Homo sapiens: one gene and its partner. The protein of the gene in region 1 purifies or fractionates together with the protein of each later gene. This does not show direct contact. Each region holds a gene or a part of one and is shown on either strand. Other genes may lie near its edges.

What was found.
Region 2: the proteins of NLRC5 (region 1) and NDUFAF7 purify together in Homo sapiens (affinity purification with mass spectrometry; one large-scale study listed by BioGRID and IntAct). This does not show direct contact.

The regions. Positions count from the first base shown.
Region 1 is NC_000016.10:56,996,057-56,999,556, forward strand, and holds part of NLRC5 (protein NLRC5), read left to right. Parts: intron 1-3,500.
Region 2 is NC_000002.12:37,241,658-37,245,675, forward strand, and holds part of NDUFAF7 (protein arginine methyltransferase NDUFAF7, mitochondrial), read left to right. Parts: coding exon 1-134; exon of another isoform or gene 135-767; intron 768-977; coding exon 978-1,036; intron 1,037-2,205; coding exon 2,206-2,316; intron 2,317-4,018. UniProt on the Homo sapiens protein: Arginine methyltransferase involved in the assembly or stability of mitochondrial NADH:ubiquinone oxidoreductase complex (complex I).

The DNA of each region.
Region 1 (3,500 bases):
CTTGATATTTTCAGCAAGGGGAGGCCAGGCCTCCGGTCAGAGCCCTGGGTCTGCAGCAATACCCAGCTACAGTTCAACAGCATCATAGTGTTTTTTGTTTTCCTTGGCTTTCTTTCTTTCTTTTTTTTTCTAGACAAGGTCTCACTCTGTCACCCAGGCTGGAGTGCACTGGTTGCACAGCTCCGTGCATAGTTTCCTGCAGCCTCTATTTCCCAGGCTCAATCGATCCTCCTGCCTCAGCCTCCCAAGTAGATGGGACTACAGGTGCGCACCACCACACCTGGCTAATTGTTTTTTGTTTTTATTTTTGATAGAGACGAGGTCTCATTACGTTGCCCAGGCTGATCTCAAACTCCTGAGCTCAAGCAGTTTTCCTGCCTTAGCCTCCCAAAGTGCTGGGATTACAGGTGTGAGCCTCCATGCCCCACCCTTGAGTTTCTTTTCGATGATACCTTCAGTTCGTGGCAAGTGGTACTTCAAAAAATAAAGTTAAAAGTGACATGGTTTCTAGAAAAGCTTTAAGGAAATGGTGTTCTGGCTTTCAGATAAGTCAAAAAAAATCTCAAACATGAGTAAAGAGTTTTGGAAATTATACACTTACCCCTAGAGGGTGAGTTTGTGGGGGAAATTTCATAATGTATACTTCCAGAATATTTAGAACTTTCCAAATGAGTACAGGTTATGTTCGTAAACAGGAAAAATAATAAAGACATAATAAAATGATAATTTAGTTTTAAAAGACGACCATTTGTTGAAAGCAGTATTATATTTCAGTTAGGAAATGGCCTCTGGAATCAGCATAGATTTTATTGTTTTATTTATTTTGTTTTTGAGACAGTGTCTCACTCTGTTGCCCACACTGGAGTGCAGTAGTGTGATCACAGCCCACTGCAGCCTCAACTTCCTGGGCTCAGGTGATCCTTCTGCCTCAGCCTCCCAAATAGCTGGGACTATAGGTGCACACCACTATGCCAGGCTAATTTTTTTGCATTTTTTGTAAAGACAGATTTTCACCATGTTGCCCTGGCTGGTCTCGAACTTCCAGGTTCAAGCAATCTGCCTGTCTCGGCCTCCCAAAGTGTTGGAATTACAGGTGTGAGCCACTGTGCCCGGCCAGCATAGATTTTAAATCCACCTTTTGTTGCTTGACTTCTTGGAGCCTGTTTCTTCATCTATGAAATGCAGGAAACGTGCCTGGAAATATTGCTTGAGATTCTAATGGGGAGGTGCAGGTGGAATACTGTAGCCTGATGCCCAGCCTATGCCGGGAACTCAGTACATAACAGCCAATGAGCATTGGCTGCGGACTGGACATGTCCCCTCCTTGTGCTGTAGTATTAATGTCTCCAACCCTCACAGTGATCCTGTGAAGTAAATGTAAAATCACCACCCAGATGAGGAAAACAGTGGCACAGAGAGGTTAAGAAAACTGTCCAAGGTTGCACAGCACTAAAATGTTGAAATCAGGATTTAAACCCAGCCCTCCTGACCCCAGAGGATCTTTTTTCAAAAATTATGTTCTTTTATTTTATTTCGAGATGGGGGTCTTTCACAGTCACCCAGGCTGGAGTGCAGTCACAATATCACGGCTTACTGCGCCTCAACCTCCCAGGCTCAAGTGATCCTCCCACCTCTGTCCCCCAACCCCCAGTTGCTTAGGAGCACAGGCACACGACACCATGCCTGGCTAATTTTTGTACTTTTTGTAGAGATGGGGTTTCTCCATGTTGCCCAGGCTGGTCTCAAACTACTGGGCTCAAGCGATCCTCCTGCTTCAGCCTCCCAAAGTACTGGGATCACAGGTGTGAGCCACTATGCCCAGCATTAGAGGCTCTTTTAACAGCTCCACAATTCCCTGTGAGATGGGCTGCATACAAAGCATTACTCCTGCTTGACATATACACAAACCATGGCCCAAAGGGAGCTGGGACTTGTCCGGATGTCAGCCTCTAAGTCAGTTTTGGGTCAGTGAGACCCAAAACCAAGGCTCTAGCCGTCTAGCCCCTCCAACCTTTCTTCTGCCCCAGTTTTATGGGTTTGGCAATGTCTGCCAGGATGGGAGGGAGCAGTTCAGATGATCCAGTCTGGAGGCAAAATTCTGCTAAATTCAAAGGGCCCAGCCTCAAGTCACTGATGTCTTTTTTTTTTTTTTTTTACTTTAAAAAAATGTATTAATTCTAAACCACACAAGTAAGACACGAATCAGTCTTCCTTGCAGAAAGTTAAACTTTTTATACATAAAGCTGATATCTATTTTACTCACTGCTTCCAGCCCCATGCCTGTCCCCTCTCCTGCAGTAACCCCTATTTGATATGTTTCCAGAACTTTATCTAAACCTTCACATAATAAAAATAATTCTTATATAGGGCTTACTAACTTCCAAGCACTGCTTTAAGAGCTTTACATATTTAAGCCCCACAATAACTCTGTGAGGTAGGTGCTGCTCTTATCCCCATTTTACAGATGAGAACATTGAGGCCCAGAGAGGCTATGTAACTGGCCTGGCGTCACCCAGCCTGCAGTTGGTGGAAAGGTCAGTCCCAAATCTAGGCAGCCTTGCTCCGAAATTCATGCTCTTAGCCTCTAAGTTATAAAACATGCTATTATCGACCTGTGGGAAGAAACAGTATTGCTGTTTGTTGATGTGTATTTTGAGACAAGTGATATCATGTTGTGCATATCATTATACAATGTGTCTTGTTTATTCCATGATACATCTTGAAGATACAGCCACGTCAACAAAAAATAAGTCCCTTTCCTGTACATAATCCCACAGCGTGGTTACACCAAACTTTATTATGGCTGTCTAGGGTGTTTAAAGACCGCTGCTGGAATTTCTTTATCCAAGACTCTGTGTGTCTTAGCCCATTGGGGCTGCTGTAACAAAGTGCCAGAGACTGGCTGGATTCTAAACAATAGAAATTTATTTCTCACAGTTCTGGAGACTAAAGTCTGAGATCAGAGTGCCAGCATGGTCGGGTTCTGGCAAGAGCCCTTTTCCGGGTTGCCGATGGCGGACTTTTCATTGTATCCTCACATGGTGCAAAGCAGGCTAGAGCATTCTCTTGGGTCTCTTTTATAAGGGCATCAATCCCATTCACTACGGCTCCTCCCTCCTGACCTAATTACCTCCCCCAGACCCCAGCTCCTAATACCCTCCTATTAGGGGTTAGAGTTTCAACATGTGAATTTCAGGGGAGCACAAATATTCAGTCGATCACATTGTGTATTCTGGGCCCCAAGGCTGTCCATTTTGCTTTCTGCTGAGAAGTTTAGTGGTAAGGTCAAAGGGTAGAAGCGCAGTAAGATCTAGAAGTCACTGCTGATTTGCCCTACAAGATGGGCAAACCACTTCCCAGCCTGCAGCTCTGAGCCCTGGATCCAGGCCTTCTCTCCTTTATGTCTCGAGCTTACTCTGTCCCCTGCCTTACTTACCAAACCAAAGCAAGACTCCTCTGGGACATTCCTGCCAGGCCCCATGGCAAGGTTGGAGCTGAGG
Region 2 (4,018 bases), on another chromosome or scaffold:
GATTCAAGCATTGACACTGACTAAAGAGAAGGTCCCGTTAGAGCGAAATGCTGGATCCCCAGTGTATATGAAAGGTGTCACTAAGTCTGGGATTCCAATTTCCTGGTACCGAGATCTGCACGATGTTCCAAAAGGTAATTACCTTTATGTGGATTAATGAAAGAATTTTGATCACAACCCTCACAGTATTGATGGGACTGTAACTTTTTACAGCAATATAATAGATTGAGTTACTGCTGCCAAGTCCCTTATCCATAGAGAGTAGCCTACTTTTTTCTAGAAAAGAGCATCTTAATAGAAAATAAAGTTGCCTGACATTAAGTAGTAGTTTATTTCATGAAGCTTTGTAAAATCCCAAACAAAATGTAAATCTCCTTTGTACTTTTGAGTATTTCCCTATAGCTAGGGTTGTACCGATGACGGAGCAGCCCAAGGCAGCTGGGGCTGATGGAAGCAGTGTTAGTAGGTGGGTTTAGTTCAGTTATAGAGTCTTTTAAAAAATCCTTACTTGCCTAAAGACAAGCAAGGTGTGGGGGAAAATCCCTGTACTAGTCAGGAATACTGACTAGTATTGACTAGTTTGAGTCTTGACTCAAAGCCAAAGTGGGGGTACGATCTTGGGTAAGGGATCTCAAGCCATTCCTGCCTCAGCCTTCTCAGGCTGAGAAGCCCGATTTTATGAAATCAAATTCCCTTCCAGCTAACAACTCTGACTTCTAATTTCTTTCAAGCCTTGTGATGAATAAAAGCTTTAACTGCTATTTCAGGTATTTCCATTTTCTGACCCCATTTATGTGTAAAATAAGAATAGTAATAATTGTTCTATGTTCTGCAGTGTAAGTTTTCCATGAAGAGGTAGATAATTCTGTGGTAGTGATGATTATGGAGGAAGTAGGCATTTTTTTTACAGTTAATATTCAAAAGAATTAATTCCTGTGAAATGTGGAAACATTAATTGTTTTCCTCTTTTTAAATAGGGTACAGCTTTTATCTTGCACATGAATTTTTTGATGTTCTTCCTGTGCATAAATTTCAGGTATTGAGGGGGGAAAAAAGTCATGTCTATAATTGAATACAAAAGGCATTGTGTTGCCAATGTTTATGGTATTTATTCAGTATACAAATTTTACTTGTTGAGGTTATTTTTAACTATTATTTGGAATTTTGGTACACAAATAATTCAAAAGCAAAAAATGAAATATTAATGAGAATTGTTAGTTCTCCTGGGATAATTATTAAGAATTCTTAATTCTTCTGATTTGAAGAAGTAAGGGAATGAAAAATGGTAAGATGGTAACTGGCTGTGGTGCAATGAAGGATTTACTTAAGCAAAAAAAAAATTTTCTTTTTTAAGAGATAGGGTATTGCTATGTTGCCCAGGCTGGTCTTGAACTCCAGGGCTCAAGTGTTCATCCTGCCTCAGCATCCCAAGGAGCTGGGACTACAGGTGTGCGCCACTGCACCCAGCCAACCTTAGCACATTTTAAAAAATTATAGATTAAACTTTTTTGGGCCAGGCATGGTGGCTTACACCTGTAATCTCAGCACTTTGGGAGGGCGAGGTGGGTGAATCACTTGAGGTCAGGAGTTCAAGACCAGCCTGGCCAACATGACAAAACCCTGTGTCTACTAAAAATAGAAAAATTATCTGGGCTTGGTGGCACGTGCCTGTACTTCCCAGCTACTAGGGAGGCTGAGGCATGAGAATCACTTGAACCCAGGAGGCAGAGGTTGCAGTGAGCTGAGATTGCACCACTGCACTCCAGCCTGGGCAACAAAGCGAGAGCTTGTCTCAAAAAAAAAATAATAAAACTTTTCTTCATTCTTTCTGTGAGGAGATTTAAGATTTGGTGATAATGTATATGTACTGGTAATTTGTGAGGAGAAGAGCAGCTCTCATGATCCTGTAGTAATTTGTTAGTAAAGCTTCTGGCTGTTCTTCCTGAGTCTATTTCCGTTTTTGGGGTACTTTCCATGCTGCTGATTTTATCTTCCACAGCGTCATCTCTGTTATTGTTTCTTTTGCATCGATTGGTCTACTCATTGTTCAAAGGCAATGAAGTAATGAATTTAAGTAATTTTAAATAGTAAGTTCTCTGTAAATGTTAGTTACTTATGGTAAGAGGAGAAAAAGCTATTTTTGGTAGAAGCAATGTAGAGAACAAACTTGCAAAAATTTGTTTTTATGTGTTATTTTGTGTTTAGAAAACACCACAGGGATGGCGAGAAGTATTTGTTGACATTGATCCACAGGTTTCTGATAAACTGAGGTTTGTTTTGGCACCTTCTGCCACCCCAGCAGAAGCCTTCATACAAGTAAGAATATGCTTTTTTAAGTTTCTTTTATTGCTCACAGAATCTTCAAAGTCTTATTTTCTGAGTTACTACTTTAGAGTTTTAGAGTTCCTTTACAGGAAGAGTTGCTAGTAGCATACGAGGTGCTTTTTATTGACAGTGAAAGTGCAGAGGAGCTAGAGGCAGGAGCATGGGTTAAAATCATTTCTTAAGTGTGTGACCTTAACGTCATGTAGTAAGAGAAAGTAAGTAACCGCTTACTCAGCCAAGTCTCTTACTTTCACTGCTTATCTCAGTTTCATGTCAAATGGTAATGGTATTGTCCACAGGAAGAGTTTACATCTGTGAAAGCAATGTAGTACAGACTATAGTAAATTAACAATAACAGCTAACGTTTGTTGAGTACTTTGTGTTACTCTGTTTTCTCATTTAATTCTCAAAGCAACTATATTAGGTAGGTTCTATTATTATCCTTCTTTGGGCTACAGCATGGCTTTTATCCCATGCTTCCACACAGATCTCAGTTTGATTCGGCCAGAATGGTAGAATTACTACTGCTTTCTGTTGATCTCAAGGAATCATTGCAAGAGCCTGTCTATTGTGGCTTGTTTAAAGGTACAAAAAAATCCCTGTACTTCTCAGGAACGTCCAGGCTTCAGACTGCCTCTTTTTTTTTAATCCTTTTTTTCCAGCTCAGAAGATGATTTTTACTTTCTGGACCTTAACTGAGAACTTCTTACTTAGAAATTATCAGTTTTAAAAGCACAAGAGCTTTTAAACTTAAATGTATGAATTAAGTTTTGTTAAGTATAAATTTAAATGTCAGACTGAACACTTATGAACACCTGTTTTTTCATAGTATAGCAATCTAAGTTTACCTGAATGACATATTCATAGAACTACCAAGAACTAACCTCCTGGCCCTGGGAGTTCATTTAGTTCTTGACCTAATTAGTATTCACTTAGGAAGGGAGGGAGCGAATATTCTCTTTCACTTGAATGAGATGCGTGGTAATACATGTCATCTTGAAGAGTAGCCTAAGATAGAATGTCAGCATGATCAGCGTGTCCACTGATGCCTGATGAGGCTGACTTCATGGTTTTTATAGTTAAGCCACAGTAATTTGATTGCACTATTAGCTAAATGGTTAGTTATATTTAATCCTCACAATAAACCTACAATATCTATAAGGAAGAAAACAACTCAGAAAGTTTAAGTAACTTGTCTACCAGTAAGCATAGGAAGAGCTGAGATTTAACTTCATCTGACTCTATGCCTGTTACCATAGGCAGACATCAGGGCAGGTCATTACTGCATTTCTATAATAAGGTGTTAGGAAGGAGTACAAGTTAATGTATGTTTTCATAATGAAGGGAAAGAAATACCACATTTTCAATCAGATCAGGAAGTAGTGAAATTTCATATATACTAGTCAGGTTGACAAGTGTTAATACTTAGTGTGATTTTGCTTTTTAAGCTAGTACACACTTATTGTGGCCCCTTAGTTAAGTGGACATCTTGGGGTAATAACGGTTTCAATACATTGGCACTAGTTTATAAGCCAGCGTTTCTTGATGTAGGGCATATCATTGGGATACTTTCTGGCACAACAGAGGGCATGATAATATAATTGTCTAATAGGGTCTGCTTCGTGTTATTGGATTTATACCATTTGTTCTTTCAGCACAATATTTTCATTGACTGTTATGTGCCTGGCACTGT